6 separate regions of the Homo sapiens genome follow, and regions 1, 2, 3, 4 and 5 are each linked to region 6. The links come from fine-mapping of genetic effects on gene expression. A gene starts in region 6. Each other region holds a variant in brackets. All regions are shown on one strand. Distances are from middle to middle.

Region 1 (5,074 bases), 72 kb before region 6:
CTAGTGGATCACCTGAGGTCAGGAGTTCGAGACAAGCCTGGCCAACATGGTGAAACCCCAACTCTTTTAAAAATACAAAAATTAGCCGGGCGTTAGCATGCACCTATAGTCCCAGCTACTCGGAAGGCTGGAGTGGGAAAATCGCTTGAATCCAGGAGGCGGAGGTTGCAGTGAGCTGAGATTGCACCACTGCACTCCAGCCTGGGTGACAGAGCAAGACTCCCTCTCAAAAAACAAACAAACAAACAAGCAAACAAACATTAGTTAGTACACACTAGTTACTCTTCTAGTTACTTCATTAACATCCTGACATTTAATTTTCACACAAACCAATGAGGTATATTATCCCCATTTTGAGCACCTTATCCAAGGTTACCTAGCTAGTAAGGCAGATTTAAATAAAGAAACCTCAGGTAATCTCATTTTCCTCCTGCTTTTGTCAAGAATCCACACGTCAGTAGTTAGACTGCGAATAGCACTTAAACATACAGATTTCACTCATTTACTGAGCACCTGCTATGTCCAGCATGGTGCCAGGCACTGGGGATAGGAAAAAAAGAGACCTAGCCCAGCCTTGAGGAGGAAGATGCACACATTAGCAATTACTCATTAGGGTGACTGGCTGAGCCAAGAGTTCATCTATCCCCATGCATAGGCCCATTAAGACAAATATAACCAGGCCTCAATTCAAGTTGAAAATTCCACTGAGTGTGGTGGTGCATGCCTGTAGTCCCAGCTACTTGGGAGGCTGAGGCAGGGGGAGCACTTGAGGCCATAAGTTTGAGGCTACAGTGTACTATGATAGCATGTGCGAATAGCCACTGCACTACAGCCTGAGCAACATAGTAAGACCACATCTCTCCCTGCCAAACAAGAGAAGGTTCCAAAACTGAGGATACAGCTGGATCTTTGCTTGTTCTCTTCATTCTCCGTTCCTTCAAAACCCATTTGGGCTGAAATATCAACGGCCCAACCCCAGACGTTCCCCAACCCCCTAGCCAAGATAAACCCTTTTACTTCTCACGGCATGCTGTTTATGTTTACACCTCACTAAAATTTATTTCAGTCTACCATGTGGTACATGTAGTTCACGTCTCACCTCTCCAACCACATGCTAAATTCTTTGAGGGAAGGAACTGTATCTCATTTTGGAATCTCTGCCTAACACATAAGTGCTTCAATAAATGTTAACTAAATTAATGAATAAAACATTGATCTGGTAACCTTCAAGTCAAAATGTGATTAAAGAAGCTGCTATTGACACATTCCCTGTCCTAGCCTTGTATTTTACTGCAGCCAAGCCTTCATGTAGTATATCAGGCTATTAGAAGATCTTCCTCTAGACTTCCTGGAGGGTCTTTTCCCTCAATGGCCAAGCTTCTCTGAACGGAGAAATTCAGTCTCAATCCCAGACCTTCTAAGATAACCTTTCAACATGCAGACTTGTAGTGTGGCTACAGATTTATTTCTGCTGTACACTATCCTGCTAATTACTATTTTTATAATAACACAGTTCCCAGAGAGCCTAGTCTTTGGGTTACAATCAAGGTGGTTGGTGGACAGCTCCCTACCTAAAACTGCCCATCAGCTATAGTGATATCTACAGTCTCAGAAACCAACATATACCTGATCATGAGAAACTAAGTTTGCTTCCCTACCTTTAACATTCTTTTAACTGTGTCCTTTTGGAGGTATGCCAGGAACCACCCTGGGGAGGGAGACAGGCTGAGTGGGATTCTAAATACCCACACTCCCTCCTACACTTGCCAGAGCAGCTCTGCTTGCAATTACCTTGGAGAAGTCTCCTATAAGGTCCCTTGGGTCATTGTCCAAAATGTTCTCAATGGTTCCTTTGGGGGAAGATGCCAGGGATAAAGACTGATGAAGAGTCTGTAACAAATCAAAGGTAGAGAATGAGACAAGGGTTCTGAATGGAACTTCCGAAAACATTCACTTGGAGCATGTCTCGAGGAGACTAAAATGTTAATGCCTACATTTAGTAAGAAGTTTTTATTTTATTTTATTGAATCTGGAGTGAACAAAAACAGATGTGGGTTATTGACTAGGTCTCCTATTATTCCAGTGTCTAACCGAATTGCTCTGAAACTAAGTTTTCCTTCCTTCCT[T/TA]AAAAAAAAAAAAAAAAAAAGGGGGTGCAGGTGGTTTGGCTCATGCCTGTAATCCCAGCACTTTGGGAGGCCAAGGTGGGTTACTCACTTGAGCCCAGGAGTTCCAGACCAGCCTGGGCAAGGCAGGTGAATCGCTTGAGCCCAGGAGTTCCAGACCAGATCAAAGAGCAAGACCCTGTCCACACACACACACACACACACACACACACACACACACACACACACACAAGCTGGGCATGGTGGTGTGTGCCTGTAGTCCCAGCTACTTGGGAGGCTGAAGTGGGAGGATCACCTGAGCCTGGGGAGGTCGAGGCTACAGCAAGTGGTGATGGTGCCACTGCACTCCAGCCTGGGTGACAGACTGAAACTATCTCCAGAAAAAGAGAAAGAAACAAGGGGGGTTAAAACTAGGATTAAGTTTAGAAAAAGTATGTCTTAACTTTTTTTTTTTTTTTTTTTTAAAAAGACAGAGTCTCGCTCTGTCGCTCAGGCTGGAGTGCAGTGGAGTACAGGAGTGGAGTGCAGGCTGGAGTACAGTGATCTTGGCTCACTGTAACCTCTGCCTCCCAGGTTCAAGCGATTCTGCCGCAGCCTCCAGAGCAGCTGAGACTATAGGTGTGCGCCACCACGCCCAGCTAATTTTTGTATTTTTAGTAGAGACGGGGTTTCACCATGTTGGCCAGATGGTCTTGAACTCCTGGCCTCAGGTGATCTGCCTGCCTTGGCCTCCCAAAGTGCTGGGATTACAGGTGTGAGCCACCGCGCCCGGCCTACGTCTTAGCTTTATTCAATGAGAAGAGGAAGCCAGCTGTTAAAAAGGGGATAATTTGAGTAAAAGGATAATACTTGTAATACACAGAAACACATTAAATGTTTTAACCCATGAATTCCTGATTATTATTGAAAAACAACTATAAGTCTTGCTTTCAACTTTGGAAGATGCTTGGTAGGGCATTATTTGGAAACTGGCAAATAAAGAGATCCAATATTCATCCTGCCTTTCCCAAGGGTAACCACAGTGTTTGATGAGTGTAAGTTTCTCTTTATAGATATATTCTAGCTAATTAATGAGGAAAGAATGTAAAAACTGCAGTATCATCTTTCTGAAACCCTGGTGAAATGAAGTAAAAAATCTGGGCAGCAATCACCAATGGCTGCCTGGCACATTATACTTCCTGATCAAAGTAGACAAAATCACCTATGTGATATTCTTGCCAAACAAATAGAACTGGAATTCAATCCATCCTTTCCAGAGTTAGGTTAAGGCAATATAGGGGATAGAAGACAATGTCTGAAGACCCCACAGGACTGTGGGAACCTTTGCAGGACAAATGACTTGAGCTCTTCAACAAATAAAAATATGCAAGAGGGAAACAGATGGAGCACTGAAATCTGAAGAGTAAGAGACCTATTGACCAACTACAGTGTATAGACTTTATTTGGATCCAGATTTTAACAAATAAACTGTAAAAGTACTTAGGAGACAACTGGGGAAAACTGAACCCAGACTGGATATTTGACATTTGATAGTAAGAAATTTAGCTCTGCCGGGCGTGGTGGCTCATGCCTGTAATCCCAGCACTTTGGGAGGCCGAGGTGAGTGGATCACTTGATGTCAGGGGTTCGAGACCAGCCTTGCCAACATGGTGAAACCCCGTCTCTACTAAAAATATAAAAAATTAGCCAGGCGTGGTGGTGGGCGCCTGTAGTCCCAGCTACTTGGGAGGCTGAGGCGGGAGAATTGCTGGAACCTGAGAGGCGGAGGTTGCAGTGAGCAGAGATCGACCCATGGCACTCCAGTCTGGGCGACAGAGCGAGACTTGGTCTCAAAAAAAAAAACAAACAAAAAAACACCCAGAAATTTAGCCCTGTATGATATGTTTGTGTGAGGAAAACACCCCACAAACTCAAAGTGATTTTTCTTATTCCCTCACTCAACAGCAACAGAAGACAGAAGTGCTGTTACCCCCAGATATGAGGGGATTTCTCCCTACCAGCAAGCAAGCAAGCAAGCAAGCAGTTCTGCAGTGGAAAATAGCTGGGTGCCGTCCAATTCAATTCTGACACTATCTACCTGCAGAGCGTCAGATCAGGAAGTTGAGGGCCCAGTCCTCAAAACCACACCACCCTTCAGACACCAGTTGGGCCTCTGGATCTTCTGATCTACGACCACCAGCTTTAAGTAGGGGTTCCCATGACCCCTTCTTTGGGTTTAATTTGCTAGAAGTGGCTCACAGAACTCAAGAAAACACATTTACCAGTTTATTATGAAGGATATTCAAAGGATATAGAAGAAGACATGCATAGGGTGAGGTATGGGAGAAGGGACATGGAGCTGCCATGCTCTCCTTGGGTGCCCCAACCTCCAGGAACCTCCATGTGTTCAGCTATCCAGAAGCTCTCTGAACCCTGTCCTTTCAAGGTTTTAGGGAGGCTTCATTACATAGAAATGATTGATTAAACCATTGGCCATGAGTGATCAACTTGACCTTTAGCCCCTCTCCTTTCCGTAGATATTGGAGGGTGGGGCTGAAAGTTCCAACCTCTAATCATGTCTCTGTCTTTCCAGTGACCAGTCCCACCCTGAAGCTATCAATCATTAGTATACAAAAAGATATGACCTTGGATATTCCAAAGATTTTAGGAGTTATATGACAGAAGGGGAAGAAGACTAAATATATATTTCACAATATCACAGGTATGATAACTGTACTCTAGCAATGCTTGACATTTTCTCCACAATGGAATTTAAAATACTAAAAATTAAAATATATGAAAATAAACCAAAACATGAGGGCCAATATATATACAAAATAATTATTAACAGTATTATTTTATCCAAAAAAAGTTTTACAAATATGGAAATAAAAAGGTCAATCTCTATTACGGTAAAAGAAAATGAATATTCTGGCCGGGCACAGTGGCTCACACCTGTAACCCCAGCACTT
Region 2 (5,074 bases), 380 kb after region 6:
TGGATGGCTTGAGCCCAGAAGTTTGAGACCAGCCTGGGCATCACGGCAAAACCCCATCTCCATAAAAAATACAAATAATTAGCTGGGTATAGTGGCACATGCCTGTTGTCCCAGCTACCCAGGAGGCTGAAGTGGGAGGATCACCTAAGCCTGGGAGGTCAAGACTGCAATGAGCTGTGATTGCACCACTGCACTCCAGCCTGGGCAACAGAGTGAGATTTTTTCTCAAAAAAGATAAAAAAAGAAACTAAGTCCCAAACAGTTAAAGAAACCAGTAACTAACAGAAATTCTTTTTTTTTTTTTGAGACAGAGTCTTGCTCTGTCGCCCAGGCTGGAGTGCAGTGGCACGATCTCCGCTCACCGCAAGCTCTGCCTCCCGGGTTCACGCCATTCTCCTGCCTCAGCCTCCTGAGTAGCTGGGACTACAGGCGCCCGCCACCTCGCCCGGCTAATTTTTTGTATTTTTAGTAGAGACGGGGTTTCACCGTGTTAGCCAGGATGGTCTCAATCTTCTGACCTCGTGATCCACCTGCCTCGGCCTCCCAAAGTGCTGGGATTACAGGCGTGAGCCACCGCACCCGACCTTACAAACTTTTTTTTTTTTTTTAACTAGGCTGGGCACCATGGCTCAGGCCTGTAATCCCAGCACTTTGGGAGGCCAAGGCAGATGGATCACCCGAGGTCGGGGGCTCGAGACCAGCCTGACCAACATGGAGACCTGCCTCTACTAAAATAGCCAGGCGTGGTGGTTCATGCCTGTAATCCCAGCTACTCAGCAGGCCGAGGCAGGGGAATCACTTGAACCTGGAAGGTGGAGGTTGTGGTGAGCCGAGATCGCGCCATTGCATTCCAGCCTGGGCAACAACAGCAAAACTCCATCTCAAAAAAAAGAAAAAGGCCGGCTGTGGTGGCTCACACTTGTAATCCCAGCACTTCAGGAAGCTGAGGTGGGTGGATCACGACATCAGGAAATTGAGACCATCCTGGCTAACATGGTGAAACCCCGTCTCTACTAAAAATACAAAAAAAAAAAAAAATTAGCTGGGCGTGCTGGCACACCCCTGTAGTCCCAGCTACTTGGGAAGCTGAGGCAGGAGAATCACTTAAACCCGGGAGGCAGAGTTTGCAGTGAGTTGAGATCATGTCACTGCACTCTGGCCTGGGCGACAGAGCGAGACTCCATCTCAAAATACAAACAAACAAAAACTAGCTGGGGCTGGGTGCGGTGGCTCACCCCTGTAATCCCAACACTTTGGGAGGCCAAGGCAGGAGGATCACTTGAGGTCAGGAGTTCAAAACCAGCCTGGCCAATATGGTGAAACTTCGTCTCTACAAAAATACAAAAATTAGCTGGACATGATGGTGGGTGCCTGTAATCCCAGCTATTCAGGAGGCTGAGGTGGGAGAATCACTTGGACCCAGGAGGTGGAGGTTGCAGTGAGCCAAGATCGTACCATTGCACTCCAGCCTGGGCGACAGAGCGAGACTCCGTCTTGGGTGGGGGGAGGTGGGGGAACTAGCTGGGTGTGGTGGCATGTACCTGTAGTCCCAGCTACTTAGGAGGCTGAGGCAGGAAGATCGCTTGAGCCCAGGAGGTCAATGCTGTAGTGAGTGGTGATCACAGCACTGCACTCCAGCCCGGGGAACAGAGCAAGAGCCGATTTAAAAAGAAAAAAAAAAAAAATCCACACGGCCCCTAAAACCTTTTGCTTTCCACCAGGGGCATCACCTCTCTAGGCTGACCAAACTCGCAGGTCCCCCACACCCAACCGCAGCCCCACAGTCCACATCGCAGTTGGGTGAGTGCTCAAAGATGTGGGATCAAAATCCACAGGCAGCTCCCCCGCTGTCAGAACAAAGCCCAAAGTCTCCCCCTGGACTGTGAGGTCCCCCCACCCTCTCACCTCAGCTCATGCTGCCCCTGCCTCCCACAGGCCTGCCTCAATACCCCCACTGCCAGCACCACAGCTCCCCAGGCCTAGAAAGTCACCTTCTTTCTTATGGCTGGAATTTCAGTTCCAGGGTCACCTGCTGAGTCCCCCTCCCATGAGCATCTTGGGTAACATATGACCTCTTCTATCACGTGACCCTGCTTTATTTTCTTCAAAGCATTTCTAACTACCTGCAATTTCCTGTTTGAGGTCTAAACTGCCCTCTCCAACATATAAGCTTCATTCAAACAATATTTACTGAGCAGCTGCCAGGCACCATTTCTGATGCTAGGACGTGGTGTGACAGAGTAAATAAAAGCTCTTATTTCCTGGGGCTGAACTTCTAGGCCATGAGTTGGGGGGTGGGGGGTGATGGTGCCAGGCACCAATACAGACCATGATAAAACAGAGCCAGGCAAGGGTACCTCTGCGATTTGAAGGGCAGGGTGGCCTCTGTCCATGCTCAGGATGGTGCCCAGACCCCTGCACAGAGCCTGGCACCTGCTCAGCACCTGATGAACAGCAGTGCTCGCATGTTTGGAGGAGAGGACCTGAGCCCAGCATTGTTTTCGCATTTCCTGGCATTTCCTCATTTATTTTTGAGACAGGGTCTTGCTCTGTCACACGAGCTGGAGTGCAGCTCCCTCCAGCATGATTTCAGCTCACTGCAACCTCCGCCTCTTGGGTTCAATTGATCCTCCCACCTCAGCCTTCCCAGTAGCTGGGATTACAGGCGTCCAGCACCATGCCCAGCTCATTTTTGTATTTTTAGTAGAGATGGGGTTTCACCTGCCTCGGGCCTCCCAAAGTGCTGGGATTATAGGCCCGGCATCTACTCATTTAATATTCACTGAGCAACCCCTGAAGCAAGAATTGTAGCCACTCACGCTCTACCGATGAACAGCACACTGAGGCCCAGACAGATCCTAAGACCCGGTCCCTCCCCTGCCATCACTGTCAGCTGACCCAACGCCCCACTGCCTGCTGGGTCACATGCCCAGATGTCGGCATTTAATGGCAGAAATCAACACACACTCCTTGGCTGACAGTGTTCTACCATGCCCAGGTGATCTGTCACCCATGCGGGGCATGATCTGGGCTCATTGCAACCTCTGCCTCCCAAGTTCAAGCGATTCTCATGCCTCAGCTTCCCGAGTAGCTGGGATTACAGGCATGTATCACCACGCCC[G/A]ACTAACTTTTGTATTTTTAGTAGAGGTGGGATTTCACCATGTTGGCCAGGATGTTCTTGAACTCCTGATGTCAAGTGATCCACCTGCCTCTGCTTCCCAAAGTGCTGGGATTACAGGTGTGAACCACCGTGCCCGGCCCGGTCATGCTTATTCTTAAGCATAGAGCAGCAGTGTGGGGGAACAGCTGCTCCTAGGTGTTCACTCTGTATCCTCCAGGGACTGCCCATTGGCACCCACGCTGCCCTGTACCTTCTCGGGTATTCCTGAGAGCAAATTATTCCTGAGAAGCAGCTCTGGTTCCAACTGTTTCACATCTGAGGAGACAGCGAGTGAGGGCTATGCATGGCTGGGGAGAGACCTTAACAGGGGATGCCTCCACAGCTCCCCTGCTCTGTACCCTAACCTCCCGAGTCCTTCCTACACCTTCTGCCCCGTCTCACCTTCAGGGCACAGGAAGGGTCAGCAGCCACAGCTGTGGACCACCCACCACCAGGGCCCCACCAAGCCACAGCAGAGACTGGAGTTGAGCAGACAAATCTTTATTCCTGAGGCTAAAATATGCACCAGTTCCCTCCCTGTACCGCGCCACTGCCAGCCTGACTGCATGCAGGCCCTGTCCCAGACCTGGAGCGCTGAACTTGGAGTCCCAGGACCTCCTTCCCTGAGTTGTGTGTGTGTACATGGAGGGGACTCCTGGGTAGCACCTGGAGGCGGCCTAGGGGTGAGGGGCTTCTCAAGGGTGCCCTGCACCTCCAGAGGTGCAGTCTTGGGCAGGATGTAGCATGTTCAGAGTCTGGTGACCTGAGCAGGCAGAGGAGGGGAGGCTCTAGTCAGTTTCCAAAGGACACAGACCAACCCCCGCCCCTAGAACAGCTTTATCCAAAGACAGCGGAGAAAGCACTGGGCCCACTGGGGACAGAGCCATGGCCACCAGGAAAGACTCCCTGGAGCTGGGGCCAGGGTGGGGACAAGCAATAGATTAACAAAAAAGAGCTTGGCAGGCCAGAGGTAGGCTCACCGAAACAGGGCTGTCGGGGACAGGCCTCGGGTGTTGGAGGGCAAAGGTGACAGCATCATGGACAGAGGCAAAGAGATGCTTCTTGGTGATGGATGCATCGAAGAAGTGCCCAGCCTCAAGCTGGCTGACCACAGGGCCTGTGGGCAAGAAGTAGGCCTCCCCTGACTCTCAGAACCTCTAGGAACTCAACTCCCGGGAGCCAACAGAATGCCCTGACCTCATCACCCCTGACCTCCACCCCTGAGGCTACAGCTGAATCCACATCACTTGTAACCCTGGACTCCTGTCTCCCAGGACACCTCTGACCTCCAGTTCCAGAGAAAGACTTTTTCCTTGTGCTACTTGGAAAACCCCTTGGCCAAAAGTATCCTACCCTCTTCCCAGGTCCCTCCTGCTGTTCCCACCCTACTCACTGTGGCAGGCCGCCATGTACACCTCCACCTCAATCTCCCGGAAGTCATGGAAAATCTGTAGCGGAAAAGGGGGCCAGCCTCAGAGGGAGGCTCAGGGACTCAGAGGGGGGCTCGGGCAGGCTTGGGGAGGGAGTTTAGAAGGGGAGCTTTGAGGGTTTGGGGAGTCAGAGGCTGGGAGTGCTCTCAGGGCAAATTACAGGGTCAGTGTGGAAGCTCGAGGGGCCTTGGCCTGCCCCCGTCCTTACATTCTTCAGGCTCTTGAGGCACACAGTGTCCACAAAGGAGAGGGCACCCAGGTCCAGGATGAGGCTGTGGAAGTCTGGCTGAGGCAGGCCCAGGGCCTTCAGTGTGGACCCATCTGGGGCCTTGGAGTCTTCTTGACCATTGGCTGTTGCATCTTCCATCTTATCTCCTGAGCTCACCTGCTGGGGAGCCAGACATGCTGCCAGGGCCACCCATGAGAGAGTGAAGGCAGGACTGGCCGCACACAGACACGCGAGAACACGCAAGGTCAGATGGGG
Region 3 (5,074 bases), 21 kb after region 6:
AAAGTCTGCAGAGTGAAGTTAAAATTCTAAAGCAAGTCCGAGGCCGGCAGATCACTTGAGGTCGGGAATTGGAGACTAGCCTGGCCAACATGGTGAAATCCCATCGCTACTAAAAACAAAATACAAAAAAAATTAGCCAGGTGTGGTGGTATGCACCTGTGGTCCCAGCTACTTGGGAGGCTGAGGCAGGAGAATTGCTTGAACCCGGTAGGCAGGGGCTGCAGTGAGCCAAGATCACGCCACTGCAGTTCGGCCTGGGTGACAGAGTGAGACTCCGTATCAAAAAAAAAAAAAAAAAAATCTAGGGCAAGTTAGGAGTGTCATGGAATACCCATAGGCTGAAGCAGTTGGTCACTGAGCAAATAATGCTTGAATTCAGTAGAAGTTGATTGGTGACTCCCTTGGTATCTGAGGGCAATGCCACCTTTCAAGTGTAACTAAAGATAGAACACCACTGAATACTCATTTAGAAGAGAAGAGACTTGAAGATGAAAAAGCATATGGTGTATGTTTTTTTGAGACAGGGTCTCGCTCTGGTCACCCAGGCTGGAGTGCAATGGTGCGATCTCAGCTCACTGTAGCCCTGACCTCCTGGGATCAGGCAATCCTCCTACCTCAGCCTCCTGGGTAGCTGGAACTACAGGTGCACACCACCATACTTGGCTAATTTTTGTTTATTTTTCATAGAGACAGGGTCTCACTGTGTTGCTCAGGCTAGTCTTGAACTCTTGGGCTCAAGCAATCCTCTCATGTCAGCCTCCCAAGTAGCAGATCCATTTTTTTCTTTTTGAGGCGGAGTCTCACTCTGTCACCCACGCTGGAGTGCAATGGAGTGATCTTGGTTTACTGCCACCTCTGCCTCTCAGGTTCAAGTGATTCTCCTGCCTCAGCCTCCCAAGTAGCTGGGACTACAGGCGTGTGCTACCACGCCCAGCTAATTTTTGTATTTTTAGTGGAGACAGCGTTTCACCATATTGGCCAGTCTGGTCTCGAACTCCTGACCTCAAGATAACCTCCCACCTCGGCCTCCCAAAGTGCTAGGATTGCAGGTGTGAGCCACCGTGCCCGGCCTAGATCAATTTCTTATGTAGCTAGATGCTCCAAGACCACCAGTTCCATTTTCACTGTGAATCTTAATGGTGACTTGATGAATATGAATTTATCGGTTGATTTAGGGACCAGTGACTTTCGAGGATGTGGCTGTGCTTTTCACTGAGGCAGAGTGGAAGAGACTGAGCCTTGAGCAGAGGAACCTATACAAAGAAGTGATGCTGGAAAATCTCAGGAATCTGGTCTCATTGGGTAAGGACATGTTCTCTTCCTTCATTTTTCCATTCAAGTATTTACTGACCATATTCAGTGTGCCAGCCAATGTTTTAATCTCTTAGAACATATCAGTGAATAGAATAATAAAGCATTTCTTCTCTCGTGGAGCTTATATTCTAGTATAGGTAGACTGACAATATACAATAAGCAGCATATATAGGTAAATTATATATGTCAAAGGATAATAAGTGCTACATAGCTAAAAAAAAATGTATAAGATATATATAAATATAAGTAGAGTAGATTAAGGGAGATCTGAAGTGCCGGGTGTGGAGGCAACTGGCTGAACTTTTAAATTGCATGATCAAGGTAGGCCTCTATGAGGAAGTACATTTGAGCAAAGGCTTGAAGGAGGTGAGGAGGTTGGATATGTGGGTCAGGTGGGAAACTGCTCCAGACAAGGGGAAAGCAGTGCCAAGGCCCTGGAGGCAGGAGCATATCTAGTCCTTTGGAGGAAAAGCAAGGAGGCCAAGGTGGTTGGAGTACAGAGAACAAGGAGGAGAATAGTAAGAGATGCCTTCTATGACCTAGAAGTTGGAAATGTTTAACGTTTAAGGTATAAATCTGTCAGTTTGATGTTTTATAGATTACTGGATATCATACATCATGTTTTTATTCACTTATTTAAAAACTAAAACTGATTACTAGGTTAGCAAATACAAAATTATTCTGGATATTCCTGAGTTCTTGATGAGAGTCAGATTTTCAAAGTTCCTCACATTTCTCTCAGCATCTTTCTCAAGGTTTGTCTTCATCTGGCATAGCTATGAATTACATAGTTCTGATTTGTTCTCTTTGCATCTGCTTAGACCTATTTTGCACTGCTTTAATCTAATTTGAATTGGCCTCATTTCAATCCTAGTTGCCTATTTCTGTTTCAGTGTAGGTTCATCCATTTAAGTTAGCTTTCAATTGGCCAATCTGATTTGGTCTTGTTTCATCTGGTCTTGTTACTCTTTATCTTTATGCTCATACATTTTGTTGATTCTGAAGAATATGTTAAAATTGCCTTAAAATAATCTGATTCAAATTAATCTTGACCCTGAAACTTTGGATCTCACTGTATCCATTTCAGGTGTTAAACTGTTTTCATCCTTGATCCATCTTTCCCTTTCTCTCTACATCACTTTTTCTCTTATTGCTGAATTATTTAAAGCAAATCTCAAATATCATGACATACCACTCCTTTATATCACAGTGCAACTCCAATAAATA[A/G]GGACATTTTATTTTATTTATTTTTTTTGAGATGGAGTTTCATTCTCATTGCCCAAGCTGGAGTGCAGTGATGCGATCTTGGCTCACTGCAACCTTTACCTTCTGGGTTCAAGTGATTCTCCTGCCTCAGCCTCCCGAGTAGCTGGGATTACAGGCGCGCATCACCACAGCCGGCTAATTTTTTGTATTTTTAGTAGAAACGGGGTTTCACCATGTTAGCCAGTCTGGTCTCGAACTCCTGACCTCAGGTGATCTGCCCGCCTCAGCCTCCCAAAGTGCTGGGATTACAGGTATGAGCCACTGTGCCCGGCTTCACATTTTCTTATATAACCACAGTATCATGATCAGAACTCACAAAGTTATCAGTAGTGCTTCAGTATCATCCAACACCTAGTCCATGTTCAAATTTACCTGATCATCTCAAAAAAGTTTTTTTGCAAATTTGAATCAGGATTCAGATGAGATCCACACATTCCATCTTCTAAAAACTTCTCTTAATTTATATCAATTCCTTCTCTCTCTCCTTCTTTTTTTCTTCCCTGTAGCCCACGGATTTGTTTGTAATGTTCTGACTCTAGAATATAAATCTATTTTAGATAATATCGTAATTTTTGCATGGTAGGTTGTAAATCAAGAGAAAATAGTTTTGAGCTTTACCAAGAGGTGTTCACCAATATGAAAAAAAAATACATCACTCATGGCAGTGCTGGTTGTGGTGTTTGAGTAACCGCTTGCGTAGCACACTTAGGTCTGTCACCACTAGAACACATGTAGTCATCAATAAGGCATATCCATGTGTGTCTGCATTTGTAGCTATCATGTCCACAATGATCTTCCTGTAAGCACTTGATTGCTCTGGTATGTCTCATAATGTAGCCTTGTCAAGAGATTACATATTGAAATGAATATTTTTATTGTAAATTACTTTCTTTTTTTCTTTTTTTTTTTGAGACGGAGTTTTGCTCTTGTTGCCCAGGCTGGAGTGCAATGGTGCAATCTCAGCTCACTGCAACCTCTGCCTCCCTGGTTCAAGTGATTCTCCTGCCTCAGCCTCCTGAGTAGCTGGGATTACAGGCACGTGCCACCACGCCCAGCAAATTTTTTTATTTTTAGTGGAGACAGGATTTCACCATGTTGGTCAGGCTGGTCTCAAACTACTGACCTCAGATGATCCGCCTGCCTCCGCCTCCCAAAGTGTTGGGATTACCGGCGTGAGCCGCCACGCCCGGCTCCTTTCTTTTTTATGTTTCGGATAGGGCATTACATTATTAAAACATTCTGCAGCTGGGTGCGGTGGCTCATGCCTGTAATCCCAGCACTTTGGGAGGCCAAGGCGGGCAGATCATGAGGTCAGGAGTTCAAGACAAGCCTGGCCAACATGGTGTAACTTTGCCTCTACTAAAAATACAAAACAAAAACAAAAACAAAAAAACAGGCCGGCATGGTGATGTGCACCTGTAATCCCAGCTACGCAGGAGGCTGAGGGAGGAGAATCGCTTGAACCCCGGAGGCGGAGGTTGCAGTGAGCTGAAATTGCGCCACTGCACTCCAACCTGGGCAACAGAGCAAGACTCCATCTTGGAGAGAAAAAAAACACAAAACATTATGAGTACATTTAATTAAATATGAATTTTGTTTCAGGACAGTAAGTGAGATGTTACAAAATATAGGTTATAAAAAGGAGGCTTTTGTTCTGACAGTATTAGAGAACATCTTCTGCCTAACCCTCTAGTCCTTTTTTAATTAACTTGGCTCCTATCACTCATTTACTCAAAAGTATGTATTGACTATTAAACACTGGGTCTAGTTCTGCATTCTTAGAATATACCAGTGATATGTATGGGAGAAGGGTTCTGTAGACATAGAAACCAGCCAGTGTACATCATCAGGAGGGGAGGACAGTGTGGCTCAGATGGAGCAAATGAAGGCTGGAGAATAGGTTGAGTCAAAGAAGCAGTAGGTGGAACCCAGTGGGCCCTCTAAGCAGCTTGGCTTTTACTCTGAACATTATGGACTTTCTTTTTTTTAAGTTGAAGGGTCTTGTTTATTAGAAATGTAGAATAAAGAAGGAAGAGGCCGGGCATGGTGGCTCACACTTGTAATCCCAGCACACTGGGAGGCCGAGGCAGGCAGATCATGAGGTCAGGATTTCGAGACCGGCATGACCAACATGGTGAAACCCTGTCCCTACTAAAAATACAAAAGTTAGCTGGGCGAGGTGGCACGTGCCTGTAATCCCAGCTACTCAGGAGTCTGAGGCAGGAGAATCACTTGAACTTGGGAGGCGGAAGTTGCAATGAGGCAAGATCGCACCACTGCACTCCAGCCTGGGTGACAGAGCAAGACTATGTCTAAAAAAAAATAAAAAGGCCGGGCGCGGTGGCTCACACCTGTAATCCTTGCTCTTTGGGAGGCTGAGGCGGGTGGATTGCCTGAGCTCAGGAGTTCGAGACCAGCCTGGGCAACATGGTGAAACCCCGTCACTACTAAAAATACAAAAATTAGCTGGGCATGGTGGCACACGCCTGTAGTC
Region 4 (5,074 bases), 71 kb after region 6:
CCTCCAGAAGGTGTTATTTTTGGTTGGGGAGATTTGAATATGAAGTATGTATTAGAAGATGACAATGAAATAATTAGTTGTAATAAGACCTTCTGAGTATGTAAGGAAATGTCCAAACTTATTAGAGAGGAACTCTGAAGTATGTAGGAGTGAATAACATGATGTCTGAGACCTGTTTTAATATACTTCATCAAAGAAAACAGAGAAATAAAAGAATAGAGGGAGGAAATGTGGCAAAACATTACAATTTATTGAATACACATGATAGGCTTATGGGATCTATTATTGGCTCTACTTTTATGTATGTTTGAAAATGTTCATAACAAAACATTTAAAACCCTCTAAAACAGTGAGCTCTTAACTTATCTAGTTTACTTCTAAAAATAAAAAATAAAAGTGTCTTTACTTACACATTGTCCATCATACAGTTTAGTTATGTTAAGCCCTTCAAATCTGAAAGAAATTATATTTTAAAATTATTTTTGCTGTATGGTATATCATAAATTCTGACTAAATTTTACTTGATAATCTTTGGCTAAGTTTGGGAAATAAACATTCTGCTAATAATGAATTCTTGGCAAATATTTAAAAATTCTACTATATGAATTTTTATTTGTCAAAGACATTGAGTATAGAAAACATACTCAGTCTACAATAAAATACAGAAATTCAAAATAGCCTTTGAAAATTCAAGTAGAAATACAGAGGATTAGAAAAAGAATGTGTCTTAAAGTTAAAATATGCATTTAATGAAAGCTGAAACATCGCTACTGACCTTACAGAAACAAAGGATTAAAAGAGAATACTATGAACAATTGTATGTCAATAGATTAGATATTCTGGATGAAATGAACAAATTCCTAGAAACACACAAATTATCAAAACTTAATAAGAAATAAAAAGTCTCAACAGACCTATGACAAGTAAAGATACTGAATCAGTAATAAAAAATGTCCCGACAAACACCAGATGGCTTTAGTACTGAATTCTACCAAAAAAAAAATTTTTTTTTTTTTTTTTTGAGACAGAGTTTTGCTCTTGTTGCCCAGGCTGGAGTGCAGTGGCACGATCTCAGCTCACTGCAACCTCTGCCTCCTGGGTTCAAGCAATTCTCCTGCCTCAGCCTTCCAAGTAGCTGGGATTACAGGCATGCGCCACCAGGCCCAGCTAATTTTTTGTATTTTTAGTAGAGACTGGGTTTCATCATGTAGGCCAGGCTGGTCTTGAACTCCTGACCTCAGGTGATCCACCCGCTTCGGCCTCCCAAAGTGCAGGGATTACAGGCATGAGCCACTGCACCTGGCCTACCAAATATTTTTAAAAGATTTAGTACCAATCTTTCTTAAACTCTTCCAAACAATACAAGAGGAGGGAACACTTGCTACTTCATTCTATGAGGACAGCATTACCATGTTATCAAAGACAGACAAAGACATCACATAAAGGAAAACTATAGACCAATATCCCTTGTGAATACAGATGCAAAGATTCTCAGAAAAATACCAACAAATTGAATACAACCACATATTAAAAGGATTATACACCATGACAAAATGGCCTTTATCCCAAGAATTCAGAGCGTTTCAAAAAAAAAATCAGCCAATTTAATAATATCACATTAATAGAATGACAGAAAAACACTGCATGATAATACTAATTGATTCAAAACATACACACATAATATTCAACAAAATCCAACACCATTTCATAATAAAACACCCAGAAAACTAGGAATAGAAGAGAACTTCTTCAACACGATAAAGAACACTTATGAAAAACCCATAGCTAATATCGTACTCAATGGTGAAAGACTGAAAGACCTGTATAAGATCAGGAACAAGACATGAATACCTGCTTTCACCACTGAGATTCAACATTGGACTGGAAATTCTAGGCGAGCAATTAGGCAAGAAAAAGAAATAAAAGGCATCCAAATTGGAAAGGAAGAAGTAAAATGATCTCTATTCAAAGATGATATGATTCTATATGTAGAAAATCCCAAATAATTAATATAAAAATGACTAAAGCTAATAAATTCAGCAAGTTGCAGAGTACAAGATTAACAAACAAAAATCAGTTGTGTTTCTATAACTATAAATCAGCAATGAACAATTTCAAAATAAAATTAAGAAAACAATTCAGTTTACAACAGCATCCAAAAAAGAAAATACTTAGTAAGAATCCTGGAGGTGAAAGACTTGTACACTCAAAACTACAAAATTGAAACTGCTGAAAATAAATAAAGAAGGCCTAAATAAATGAATGACATCCCATGCTCACTGACTGGAAGAATTAATTTAAGATGACA[A/G]TACTTCCCAAAGCAATCTACAGATTCAATGAAATCCTTATCAAAATTCCAGTGGCCTTTATATTTTGTGGAAATAGAAAAGCCAATCTTGAAATTCATATAGAATTGCAAAGGGCCCTGAGTTGCCAAAATCATCTTGAAAAAGAAACAAAATTGGAAAACTCCAAATGTCCAATTTCAAAAACTTACTATAACACTACAATAATCTTGCAGTGTCAGCTACTTGGGAGGCTGAGGCAGGAGGATTGTGTGGGCCTGGGAGTTCAAGACTGCAGTGAGCTATGACCACACCACTGCTCTCCAACCTGGGAGATGCAGTAAGACCCTGTCTCCAAAAAAAAAAAAAAAGTATAATAATCAGTGGTACTGGTACTGGTATTAGGATATAAATACAGAACAAAAGAAAAGAATCAAGGATCCAAAAATAAACTCATATATCTATGGCCAATTGATTTTCAACAAGGGTACCAAGGCCATTCAATGGGGGAAGAGGATAGTTTCTTCAACAAATAAAGCTGGGACAACTGGATAACCACATGCAAAAGAATAACATTAGACAGGGTGGGCATGGTGGCTGATACCTATAATCCCAGCACTTTGGGAGGCTGAGTCAGGCAGATGACCTGAGGTCAAGAATTTGAGACCAGCCTGGCCAACATGGTGAAACCCAATCTCTATTAAAAATACAAAAATTACCCAGGCTTGGTGGTGGGCACCTGTAATCCCAGCCACTGGGGATGCTGAGGCAGGAGAATTGCTTGAACCCAGGAGGTGGAGGTTGCAGTGAACCAAGATCGTGCCACTTCACTCCAGCTTGGGTGACAAAGTGAGACCCTGTCTCAAAAAGAAAAAAGAAAAAAGTTAGACCTCTATCTCACACCATATATAAAATTTAATTCAAAAATGGATCAATGGGGCCGGGCGTGGTGGCTCACGCCTGTAATCCCAGCACTTTGGGAGGCCGAGGTAGGGGGATCACAAGGTCAGAAGTTCGAGACCAGCCTGGCCAGCATGGTGAAACCCCGTCTCCACTAAAAATACAAAAAATTAGCTGGGCGTGGTGGTGCACACCTGTAGTCCCAGCTACTCCGGAGGCTGAGGCAGGAGAATTGCTTGAACCTGGGAGGCAGAGGTTGCAGTGAGCTGAAATCATGCCACTGCACTCCAGCCTGGGAACAGAGTCAGACTCTGTCTCAAAAAAAAAAAAAGATCAATGGGCTAAAACTACTAAACTCTTAGAAGAAAAATTAGAGGTAAATCTTTATGCCTTTGGATTTTACAGTGGTTTTTTGGGTGTAATAGCAAACGTAAGAACAACAAAAGAAAAAATAGATAAATTGATGTCATCAAAATTAAAAACTTTGTGCATCAAAGGACATTATCATGAAAGTAAAAGGCAACCTATAGAATCGGGGGAGAAATATTTGAAAATCATAGTATTTAGTATTCAAAATATATAAAGAATTCTTACAACTAAAACATAAAGACAACACAATTTTTAAAAATGGGCAAAGGACTTGAGTAGATATTTCTCCAAAAAAGTATATGGATAGCCAAAAAGTACATAAGAAGATGTCCAACCTCATTAGTCATTAGAGAAATGTAAATGAAAACTTGATGAGATACCATTTTCACACCCACAAGGATGGATATAATAATATTTTTAAAAAGTACTAGCAAGGATGTGAAGAAATTGGAACTCTCATATTTCTGGAAGAATGTAAAATGGTTCAGCCCCTATAGAAAAGTTTGATGGTTCCTCAAAAAGTTAAACACAGAATTACCATATAACTCAGCAAATTCCACCCCTAGGTATATAACCAGAAGGCTGAAAACAGGTACTCAAATAAATACTTGTACACAAATGTCTATAAGAGCACTCTTCACAATAGTTAGACATGGAAACAACCCAAATTTCCTTCAATGAATAAATAAAAAAATTGTGGTATATACACATAATGGAAAACTATTCAGTAATACAAAAAGAAATGAAGATATATGCCACACTGTGGATGAACCTCAAAATGATTATGTAAGTGAAAGAAGCCAGACACAAAAGATCATAGGTTGTATAATTCCAGTTATGTGAAATATACAGAATAGTAAATCTGTAAAAACAGAAAGTCTATTGCTAGTTGCCAGGAACTGTGGGGAGGAGGGAATGGGAAGTTAACTGCTTAATGGACATGAGGTTTTATTCTGGAGTGACAAAAATGTTTTGAAAGTAATAAAGGTGGCAGTTTTATAACATTGTAAATGTACTAAATGCTACCAATTTGTTCACTTTAAAATGGTTCATTTTATGTCATATGAATTTTACCTCAATCTTTAAAAATATGCATTTGCACCCATTTATAGTTATAAGAACTTTGATAAGTTGCTCCCCTCAGGTCTCAGTGTCTTCATTCAAAAGTGAGCCCTTTTGCTTGGACAGTGAAAATGGAGAAGTAAGAATCTTTAAAATTTCCTCCACGAAAGCAACAAGAACACTGGCAAAAATGGTCAGAATCAAGTTTTCCAGAATTCTGGGAATTAAAAAAAAAAAAATCAAACCATGCAGCAATCCAAGGAACATCTATTGAAGAAAAATTGCTGCTTCTCAGTAAGAATAGTGAGTTTCATGGCATTTTATCTTGCTCTGGACCCATCTGCAGCATTCCCAGTTCCATGGTAGTAATGAAAAACAACCACCCACAATCATAGTGAAAACCAGCAGCCTGGCAGCATCTGGAGGGAGAAGACTGGTGTTGGAATGCCTTCAATGCA
Region 5 (5,074 bases), 36 kb before region 6:
GTGGCGCATGCCTGTAATCCCAGCTACTTGGGAGGCTGACGCAGGAGAATCGCTTGAACCCGGGAGGCAGAGGTTGCAGTGAACCGAGATCGCGCCATTGCACTCAAGCCTGGGCAACAAGCATGAAACTCCGTCTCAAAAAAAAAAAAACAAAAGGCCGGGCGCGGTGGCTCACGCCTGTAATCCCAGCACTTTGGGAGGCCGAGGCGGGTGGATCACGAGGTCAGGAGATCGAGACCATCCTGGCTAACATGGTGAAACCGCGTCTCTACTAAATGTACAAAAAATTAGCCGGGCGCAGTGGCGGGTGCCTGTAGTCCCAGCTACTCGGGAGGCTGAGGCAGGAGAATGGTGTGAACTCGGGAGACGGAGCTTGCAGTGAGCCGAGATCGCACCACTGCACTCCAGCCTGGGCGACAGAGCCAGACTCCGTCTCAAAAAAAAAAAAAAAAAAAAAAAAAAAAAAAAAAACAAAAAAAACAAAAAAAAAACCTTGTTGATAAAACGGGTTGCAGTAAAGAAGCCGGCTAAATTCCACCAAAACCAAGATGGCCACGAGAGTGACCTCTGGTCATTTTCACTGCTACACTCCCACCAGCTCCATGACAGTTTACAAATGCCATGGCATTGTCAGGAAGTTACCCTATATGGTCTAAAAAGGGGAGGCATAAATAATCCACCCCTCACTTAGTATATCATCAAGAAATAACCATAACAATGGGCAACCAGCAACCCTCAGGACTGCTCTGTCAACGGAGTAGCCATTCTTTTACTCCTTTACTTTCCTAATGAACTTGCCTTTGCTTTGCTCTGTGGACTTGTCCTGAATTCTTTCTTGTGCGATATCCAAGAACCCTCTTTTGGGATCTGAATCGGGACCCCTTTCCTGTAGCATCTTTCTGGCGACTATGAAGGGACTATAGTGTGGAAATCCCCAACCCAAAGGCTAACTGTGTAAGTGGTGGGGTCTGGTAACATCTTTCTGATGAATCCTGAAAGGACAATATTGAAGAAACCACCTGCCCCAAAGGAAATGGACTGCAGGACTAATTGGTGGACTTTGGGTAAGTGGGATGCCTATATCCGGGTAAAGAATGGGATTGGGTTAGAGGCCCAATTTAGGGGACTTAGAGTCTCTCCTAAGTCAGAGTGGGTTAGAGGCCCCTTTCTTAATAAAAGGCAGGAGGCCAGGTGCGGTGGCTTATGGCTATAATCCCAGTACTTTGGGAGGCTGAGGTGGGTGGATCACCTGAGGTCAGGAGTTCAAGACCAGCCTGACCAACATGGCAAAACCCCATCTCTACTAAAAATACAAGTAACTGGGTGTGGTGGTGCAAGGCTGTAATCTCAGCTACTCAAGAGCCTGAGGCAAGAGAATCACTTGAACCCAGGAGGTGGAGGTTGCAGGGAGCCGAGATCATGCCACTGTACTCCAGCCTGGGCAACAAAGTGAGACTCCGTCTCAAAAATAAATAAATAAATAAAAATAAAAGGCAAGAATGCTTGACTGACCTTGGGTTAGAGGCCCAACTTAGAAGGGTTAGAGTCCCTTTAAGATTTAGGGAGTTGGAGGCTACTCTCAGTAAACTCCCTTTCAGCTAAGAACAGGTTTAGCATTACAGGATGTTAACTGCTATTCTCTTTGGATTGATCTGCCTTGCACTCTTTGCTGTTGGTCAGGCTGGTCTTGAACTCCCGACCTCAGGTGATCTGCCCGACTCAGCCTCCCAAAGTGCTGGGATTACAAGTGTGAGCCACTGGTCCTGGCCATGATGATCTGCTCTTTAACAAAAATTTGTAAAGGGCTATAAAAGGTTTATGAAAATCTTACCTTATGGTCAAACTGACTAAGATTAAAATATATTTGTCTATAAGGTTTTATTAAGAATTGGGTTTGCTGGGTGTGGTGGCTCATGGTCTGTAATTCCAGCACTTTGGGAGGCCAAGGCGGGCAGATCACGAGGTCAGGAGTTCAAGACCAGCGTGGCCAATATGGTGAAACCCCATTTCTACTAAAAATACAAAAATTAGCCAGGCATGGTGGCAGGCACCTATAATCCCAGCTACTTGGGAGGGTGAGGCAGGAGAATCGCTTGAACCCGGGAGGCAGAGGTTGCAGTGAGCCGAGATTGCGCCACTGCACTCCAGCCTGGTGACAGAGCAAGACTCCGTCTCAAAAAAAAAAAAGAAAGAAAAATTGGGTTTGACATCAATAATGCATTAATGCAACAGTAACATTTGGCTTATTTGGTTTAAAAGTCATACAAGGCCGGGCGCAGTGGCTCACACCTGTAATCCCAACACTTTGGGAGGCCGAAGCAGGCAGATCACCTAAGGTTGGACGTTTGAGACCAGCCTGGCCAACATGGAGAAACCCCATCTCTACTAAAAATACAAAAATGAGCTGGGCGTGGTGCCGCATGCCTCTAATCCCAGCTACTCAGGAGGCTGAGGCAGGAGAATTGCTTGAACCCAGGAGGTGGAGGTTGTGGTGAGCTGAGATCATACCATTGCACTCCAGCCTGGGCAACAAGAGCGAAACTCCGTCTCAAAAAAAAAAGTCATACAAAAGCATTGTCAAATATAAAATGGCGTTTGGTTTTCTTTGGGCTGTATTTGTATAAATATGTTATTGGTATGTGTTCCCAAATTATGGAATACTCCTATAATTCTGATATGGCTTAGTGTTTGTTATTAATAATTATAATTGTTACATAAAATCATTATATGCCACAGAGGTAACCAAATTTCTTTTTTTTTTGAGACGGAGTCTCGCTCTGTCCCCTGGCTGGAGTGCAGTGGTGTGATCTTGGCTCACTGCAACCTCCCCACAGGTTCCAGTGATTCTCCTGCCTCAGCCTCCCGAGTAGCTGGGACTACAGGTACCTACCACCACGCCCAACTAATTTTTGTATTTTTAGTAGAGATGGGGTTTCACCATGTTGGCCGGATGGTCTCGATCTCCTGACCTCATGGTCCACCCAACTTGGCCTCCCAAAGTGCTGGGATTACAGGCATGAGCCACTAAGCCCTGCCTGTCA[G/A]TTGTGTTTTTTTGTTTTGTTTTGTTGTTGTTGTTGTTTTGAGATGGAGTCTCTCCCTGTTGCCCAGGCGTGACACGATCTCAGCTCACTGATTCTATGCCTGCATGGGTTCCAAGGGCACTGGGCTGGAGAGGAGGGCACAGGCCAGCTCTCCAAGTTCCCAGTTGCCCGCTAGGTTCGGGTAGCTGGGGGTGCTCCTAATTCTGCAGCAGGCAGAAGGAGCACTGGCATGGGGTTGAACCCCAGCATGGCCACGCCCCACCTGGGGCTTTGCCAAGCCCTTTTCTCCTTGTTCTCTGAGGGCCTCAGTTACCCCTTCTGGACAATGGAAAGTTGCAATAGTCAGTGTTGTTGGTCACACGCTTGAATGTATGGGTTTAGAGCTCTTTCTTAATTTCTTTTTTTTTTTTTTTTGAGACAGAGTCTCGCTGTGTCGCCCAGGCTGAAGTGCAGTGGCGCGATCTCGGCTCACTGCAAGCTCCACCTCCCGGGTTCACACCATTCTCCTGCCTCAGCCTCCCAAGTAGCTGGGACTACAGGCTCCTGCCACCATGCCTGGCTAAGTTTTTTTATTTTTTAGTAGAGATGGGGTTTCATCGTCTTAGCTAGGATGGTCTCGATCTCCTGACCTTGTGATCTGCCCACCTCGGCCTCCCAAAGTGCTGGGATTGAAGGCGTGAGCCACTGCGCCCAGCCCTTAATTTCTTAAAGAAGACTTTACCAAACCAATAAATAAAGTCTTAAGTGCATGTTGTTATGTTTCCCAGATGATTTAAATCTCTGTGATTTGAGGAATTCCTGAAGCCACTTCTTGAACTCCTTCCTGCTATGACTGTTTTCTGGTGCTGGTGGCAGAGCTATGGCCATGTGACCTGTGCGGTCATACAGGGCCCCTGCACTCAGAAGGGCCCTGTACTTAGTTCAATGCTCTGTTTCTGAGGTCTTGAAATTCTTTATGATTTTTGAACAAAGGGCCCCACATTTTCATTTTGCATTGGGTGCTGCAAATTATGTAGCCAGTCCTGGCAATAGTGGCTCCACACTCCCAACAACACAGGAAGGGGCTCCTGGAGGCCATTCTATGAGGAACGTATTTCCCTCCATACTTGCCCAGAGTCTCCTTGGAGTCTTTGTTCCTGGTCTTAAGCAGCCAGAGGAGCAGGGGTACAGCCTGGAGGGGAAGGAAGAGAGTTGGAGGTAGCACAGGGCAGAAGGGCACCCCTAGTCCAGCCTGTCAATGCCCAGAGTTCAGCAGATTGAAAAGCTGAATCCCCAGCACCTCTTGCCGCACTAGACTATAGGAGAGACACAGGGCTGGTCAGGGTGGTGTTTGGTGGGCTCAAGACAGAAGGGGACAGGGAGCACAGTTGAGAGAAATAGGAGGCCCCAGATCAGACCAAGAGAAACTGTGAACTGGAGCCAGAGGTCTGAGTCCTGCCACCAGCCATGACTTAGCCAAGACCTGCCTCTCAAGGCAACTCTCCCACCTGGCTCTGGACCTCAGTTTCTTCCCTTGCCAAATGGGGCTGATGGTTACCCCTGCCCTGTCCTTCCAGGAGTGCTGTGAGCTCAAAGGAGGTGGACACACAGGAGCCCTTTGTATCTTAGAGGACCACACACACAGGTCACATCCCTGGACTCAAGTGGCCAGACTCCATAGACACTATGGCCACGGTGCGGCTGGGAGGAGGCACACAACATAATTTCCATTGGCTCCATTTCCCCAGCCACACCCCTCTCAGGGGTCCCAGTTTGAACTCAGATCCAGGTGGCACCTGGCCCAAGGCTCCCTGCATGGTATTGTTACCACGACAACCCCAGAAATTAGTGTTGGGGCTTTTCCTTTGGTGACAGGATGGGTCCCAGAGGCCCTACACAATACTGTTGCTGTAGGCAAGTTTGCTGGGAGATAACTCATTTCAGTGGGGCTGCCCTTGCCCATATAGGTGACCACCGTGGCAGGGGCTCCTTGCCCAATGGAGAGAGCCCCCTGCTTCACCAGCTGTAGGGACAGCAAGTGTTTTCCACTCACA
Region 6 (5,074 bases):
ACTGCACTCCAGCCTGGGCGACAGAGCAAGACTCCGTCTCAAAAAAAAAAAAAAAAAAAAGAGTAATTCATGCAGAGCCGGCTGTGCGGAAGACCAGAGTTTTATTATTACTCAAATCAGTTTCCTCAAAAACTCAGAGATCAAAATTTTTAAGGATAATTTGGTGGGAAGGGGGCCAGTGAATCAGGGTGCTGATTGGTTGGCTCGGGATGAAATCATAAGGAGTTGAAGCTGTTCTCTTAGGCTGAGTCAGTTCCTAGGTGGTGGCCACAAAACTGGTTGGCAGGTCCAGCTGGGGCCGTTCAGTTGTCAGAAATGCAAAAATCTGAAAAGACATCTCAAAAGGCCAATCTTAGGTTCACAATAGTGATGTTATCTTTAAGAGTAATTGAGGGCTGGGCGTGGTGGCTCACGCCTGGAATCCTACCACTTTGGGAGGCCAAGGTGGGCGGCTCACCTAGGTCAGGAGTTTGAGACCAGCCTGACCAACATGGAGAAACCCCGTCCTTACTAAAAATACAAAATTAGCCGGGCGTGGTGGCGCATGCCTGTAATTCCAGTTACTCCGGAGGCCGAGGCAGGATAATTGCTTGAACTCGGGAGGAGGAGGTTGCAGTGAGCCGAGATCGCACCATTGCACTCCAGCCTGGGCTCAAAAAAAAAAAAAAAAAAAAACCAACCTTGGCCGGGCGCGGTGGCTCACGCCTGTAATCCCAGCACTTTGGGAGGCCGAGGCGGGTGGATCATGAGGTCAGGAGATCGAGACCATCCTGGCTAACAAGGTGAAACCCCGTCTCTACTAAAAATACAAAAAATTAGCCGGGCGCGGTGGCGGGCGCCTGTAGTCCCAGCTACTGGGGAGGCTGAGGCAGGAGAATGGCGTGAACCCGGGAAGCGGAGCTTGCAGTGAGCCGAGATTGCGCCACTGCAGTCCGCAGTCCGGCCTGGGCGACAGAGCGAGACTCCGTCTCAAAAAAAAAAAAAAAAAAAAAAAAAAAACCAACCAAAAAAAAAAAGAATCCAAAAATATTAGCGGGGTATGGTGGTGCGTGCTTGTAATCCCGGCTACTCAGGAGGTTGAGGCAGGAGAATCGCTTGAACCCAGGAGAGGGAGGTTGCAGTGAGCCGAGATGGCACCACTGCACTCCAGCATGGTAGACAGAGTGAGACTCCGTGTTCTTTTCCCTAAAAAAAAAAAAAGAGTAATTGGGGAAGTTGTGCTTCAAAAGAGTAATTGGGGAAGTTGTGCGTCTTAGGGCCTCTGGAATAATGGCTGGTAATATTTAGAATTCCAGCCCTTCTCATCCTAATTTGGTGGCTGGTGGCCTTTCATTCATTTTACAAGAACAGTTTAGCCCTTGGGAAGGGCTATTATTTAAGCTATAAACTGAATTCCTTCCCAAGGCTACTTTGGCCTATGCCCAGAAGTGGACAAAGACAGTTTAGAGGTTGAAAGGAAGATGAGGTGGGTTAGATCTGATATCTTTTACTGTCATTGATAAGGCTCTGATGACTGGAGGAACACCAGGGTCCTTGGTCTCTGATAGGCTTAATAACACAGACACACGTGGAGTGGTTTTAAGGAGCGAAAAGTTTAATAGGCAAGAAAGAAGGAAGGAAGACGAAAACAGCTCCCCCATACAGAGACAGAGGGAGCGGGGATTCCAACAAAGAGAAAGCGCCGTGTGCGGAAAAGTGGCTGCTTATCTGAGGATGCTGGAGGAGGCGGTGTCTGGTTTCCATAGGGCTCAGGGGATTAGTTTGATCAGATGTGTCATTTATGTGGCAGCCAAAAACCTGGCCCTCCCACCCTAGCTTTTTAATATGCAAATGTAGGGCTCCATGAAGTTCTACACACGTGGGAATATGTGGGGGGTGGCCATGTTGCCAGGCACATGTCAGGGCAAAGAAAAGGACGGCGGGAATCGCCATGTTTGGGTGCGTCCAGTTTCTAATGGCCTGTATTTCCATATCAAAGCTTGCCATCCTGCTCTAGGAGCCCAGGCTTTCCTGCTAGACAAGAAACCTTTCTGGAGCTGCTTTAAAAGAAACAAAAACTTCCCAAGGACCCCTTTCCTTCTCTATCTGCTTAAAATAATTTCTTAATAACTCCTATAACATCATAATTTCCTTAGGTATAATTTTGCAAAGGCGGTTTCAAAAGCTCTTTGGGGTCCTCAGTAATTTTTAAGAGTGTAAAAGGATTTTAACAACAACAAGTTTGCGAACCACTGTCCTTGAGAAGCTCTCCATGGATGCGCATGAGTCTGTCCAATTGGAGTCCTGGTGTATTTCTACATTAGATACCACACAGCAGTGAACACACAATGAACAGGTCAACACGTGTCATTATAGAACTGCGCAAAAGAGCTAGTAGCAGGCATTGTAAGTGTATTTATATAATGTTTACAACCATGGAAAACAACACTATATTTTGCTTATGGGTACCTGTGGTAAGCACAACCCCAAATATTGCGGCCGAGGGGGACCTAGAAGGTCAAAGTGCGCCTCAGCATTTTCTCTCGCCCTGCACAAGCCGCATTTCGCCCCGAGAACTACGCTTCCCGGCAGGCTGCGCGCCGCGCGGTGACGCACTTCACCCAGTCCTGCTTCTTTCTTCTGGCGCCGCCAGTGGCCCGCGGTGCGCATTCTAATCCGTTTCACACACGGTGCTGCTACCTCGTTTGCTTCGTGCGTGCGTGCGCGCGCAGATGTGGGCCCCGCGGGAGCAGCTACTGGGCTGGACTGCGGAAGGTGAGTCGGGGCCGCGAGATCGCCTCCCCCATTCGGTGCTCCAGCCGCAGGCGCCGCGCAGGCGTCGGCCGTATCCACCAGGGATGCGCGTGGGGTGCGAGCTGTGTGAGGCGCTGACTACCCCTACAGCGGCTCTTACTCCCCTGGGGGGCCAGGTTCCTCCCTAGGTGTCCCGTACAGTCTCCACGGTGCTCACTCCACGACTCTTCACCGGGCATCCTGCACTTGTGCACTCCGGCAGTCATTGGCCATAAATGGCTGCTGAGCATTTGAGATGTGTGGAGTGCAACTGAAGAACAGCATTTTGTATTATTATATTATATCATATTTATTTTGAGACGGAGTCTCGCTCTGTCGCCCAGGCTGGAGTGCAGTGGCGCGATCTCCGTTCACTGCAATCTCCGTCTCCCGGGTTCAAGCAGTTCTCTGCCTCAGCCTGCCGAGCAGCTGGGATTACAGGCGCCCTCCACCACGCCTGGCTAATTTTTGTATTTTTAGTAGAGACGGGGATTTCACCATGTTGGCCAGGCTGGTTTTGAACTCCAGACCTCGTGATCCGCCCACCTCGGCCTCCCAAAGTGCTGGGATTACAGGCGTGAGCCACCGCGCCCGGAGTATATTATATTTTTATATTTTTTGAGTCGGTCCGGAGTGCAGTGGCGGGATCTAGGCTCACTGCAGCCTCCGCTTTCCCAGGCTCAAGTGATTCTCGTGCCTCAGCTTCCGGAGTAGCTGGGATTACAGGCGGCGCCTCACCACCCCGGCTGTTGTATTTTTAGTAGAGAGGGGATTTCGCCATATTTGCCAGGCTGGTCTCGAACTCCTGGCCTCAAGCAATCCACCCACCTTGGCCTCCCACAATGTTGGGATTACAGGTGTTAGCCACCCCACCCGGCCCAAAAGACTTTTTTTTTGGAGACAGAGTCTTGCTCTGTAGCCCAGGCTGGAGTGCAGTGGGCGATCTCTGCTCACTGCAACCTCTTTCTCCCAGGTTCCAGCGATTCTCCTGCCTCAGCCTACCAAGCGGCTGGAATTACAGGGACACGCCACCACGCCCGGCTATTTTTTTGTATTTTTAGTAGAGGCGGGGTTTCATCATGTTGGCCAGGCCGGTCTTGAACTCCTGACCCCAGATGATCCACCTGCCTCGGCCTCCCAAAGTGTTGGGATTACAGGTGGGAGCTACCACACCCGGCCCCAAATGACTTTGGATGTAACAACAGGAACAGTCTAGAACAGGGCTGGGCAAATTTTTTTCTGTTTGGTTTTTTTAGAAACAGGGTCTCCCTATGTTGCCCAGGCTGGTCTCCAACTCCTGGGCTCAAGGGATCCTCCCGCCTCGGTCTCCCAAAGTGCTAGGATTATAGGCGTGAGCCACTGCACCTGGTCTTGCAAACGTTTTCTTTTAAGGGCCAGGTGGTAAATGTTTCAGGCTTTGTAGGCCACACGGTCTTTGTTACGACTAGTGGTCTGCTGTTGTGTGAAAGCAGCCAAAGACCATAGGTAAACGAATGAGCATTGCCGTGTTCCAATAAAACTTTCTTTATAGACATTGAAATTTGAATTTTGGCTGAGTGCAGTGGCTCACGCCTGTAATCCCAGCACTTTGGGAGGCCAAGGCAGGAGGATCTCTTGAGCCCAGGAGTTCAAGACCAGCCTGGTCAACATGGCAACACCCCATCTCTACTTTAAAAATAAAATAAAATAAAATAAGCTGGGTGTGGTGCCGTACACCTGTAATCCCAGCTACTCTGAGGCTGAGGCGCAAGAATTGCTTGAACCTTGGAGGCAGAGGTTTCAGTGAGCCGAGATCGCATGACTGCACTCCAGCTTGGGTAACAGAATGAGACTCTAAAAAAAAAAAAGGAAATTTGAATTTCATATATAATTTTCATTATTATGAAATATTCTGTTTCTGATTTTTTTTTCAGCCAATTAAAAATGTAAAAACTGGCCCAGCATGGTGGCTCACGCCTGTAATCCCAGCACTTTGGAAGGCTGAGGCTAGGATCACTTGAGCCCAGAAGTTTGAGACCAGCCTGGGCAACATAGTGAGACTTCATCTTTGTGTTAAAATTTTTTTTTTCTGAAGTAAAGACTATTCTTAGCCTTTGGGTGGTATAACAACAGGTGGCAGGCTGGATTTGGCTTGTGTGTAGTTTGCCAAGCCATTGTTCAGCATGTAGCTGTTTGTCCTGTGTGGGAGCCCTTGTGCCTCCTTCCATCCACTCTTTGAGGGTGGTGGGCTTTGTCTCTGCCTACTGTGCCAAGACCAGTTCAATTGGATAGCAAAGCTAAAGAAAGTAAAGACAATGGACCG

Direction of the effects. Alleles are on the strand shown, and positions count from the first base shown. SD is a standard deviation of normalised expression in the study named. Not every link is listed here.
In carriers of allele TA in region 1, the expression in fetal neocortex of the gene that starts at base 2,644 in region 6 tends to be higher than with T alone (moderate effect, 0.52 SD a copy in Walker 2019).

Evidence for each region. PIP is the estimated chance that this variant, and not a neighbour inherited with it, causes the effect.
Region 1: its variant is the best candidate, but not a certain one, in a credible set for the expression of ZNF589 in fetal neocortex (Walker 2019, PIP 0.82).
Region 2: its variant is the best candidate, but not a certain one, in a credible set for the expression of ZNF589 in blood mononuclear cells (TOPMed, PIP 0.87).
Region 3: its variant is the best candidate, but not a certain one, in a credible set for the expression of ZNF589 in tibial nerve (GTEx, PIP 0.82).
Region 4: its variant is the best candidate, but not a certain one, in a credible set for the expression of ZNF589 in whole blood (INTERVAL, PIP 0.57).
Region 5: its variant is the best candidate, but not a certain one, in a credible set for the expression of ZNF589 in whole blood (INTERVAL, PIP 0.85).

What each region holds. Positions count from the first base shown.
Region 1 is chr3:48,166,055-48,171,128 of GRCh38, forward strand. It overlaps CDC25A (cell division cycle 25A), which reads right to left. Exons shown (of 15, transcript NM_001789.3): 10 at 1,792-1,890. Among named protein-coding and RNA genes, the nearest start is that of CDC25A, 20 kb to the right of the region's middle. The variant T/TA (reference allele first, on the strand shown) is at 2,127.
Region 2 is chr3:48,622,078-48,627,151 of GRCh38, forward strand. It overlaps SLC26A6 (solute carrier family 26 member 6), which reads right to left. Exons shown (of 21, transcript NM_022911.3): 18 at 4,799-4,978; 19 at 4,554-4,608; 20 at 4,141-4,277; 21 at 3,646-3,923. The coding sequence ends at 3,909. Among named protein-coding and RNA genes, the nearest start is that of TMEM89, 2.8 kb to the left of the region's middle. The variant G/A (reference allele first, on the strand shown) is at 3,122.
Region 3 is chr3:48,259,638-48,264,711 of GRCh38, forward strand. ZNF589 (zinc finger protein 589) reads left to right here. Exons shown (of 4, transcript NM_016089.3): 3 at 1,176-1,302. Among named protein-coding and RNA genes, the nearest start is that of ZNF589, 21 kb to the left of the region's middle. The variant A/G (reference allele first, on the strand shown) is at 2,542.
Region 4 is chr3:48,309,494-48,314,567 of GRCh38, forward strand. It overlaps SPINK8 (serine peptidase inhibitor Kazal type 8 (putative)), which reads right to left. Exons shown (of 8, transcript NM_001080525.3): 7 at 411-453. Among named protein-coding and RNA genes, the nearest start is that of MIR2115, 4.4 kb to the right of the region's middle. The variant A/G (reference allele first, on the strand shown) is at 2,309.
Region 5 is chr3:48,202,148-48,207,221 of GRCh38, forward strand. No RefSeq gene overlaps it. Among named protein-coding and RNA genes, the nearest start is that of MIR4443, 8.1 kb to the left of the region's middle. The variant G/A (reference allele first, on the strand shown) is at 3,042.
Region 6 is chr3:48,238,461-48,243,534 of GRCh38, forward strand. It overlaps ZNF589 (zinc finger protein 589), which reads left to right and starts at 2,644. Exons shown (of 4, transcript NM_016089.3): 1 at 2,644-2,754. The coding sequence starts at 2,712. RefSeq lists enhancers at 1,799-2,093, 2,411-3,328, 2,519-2,813.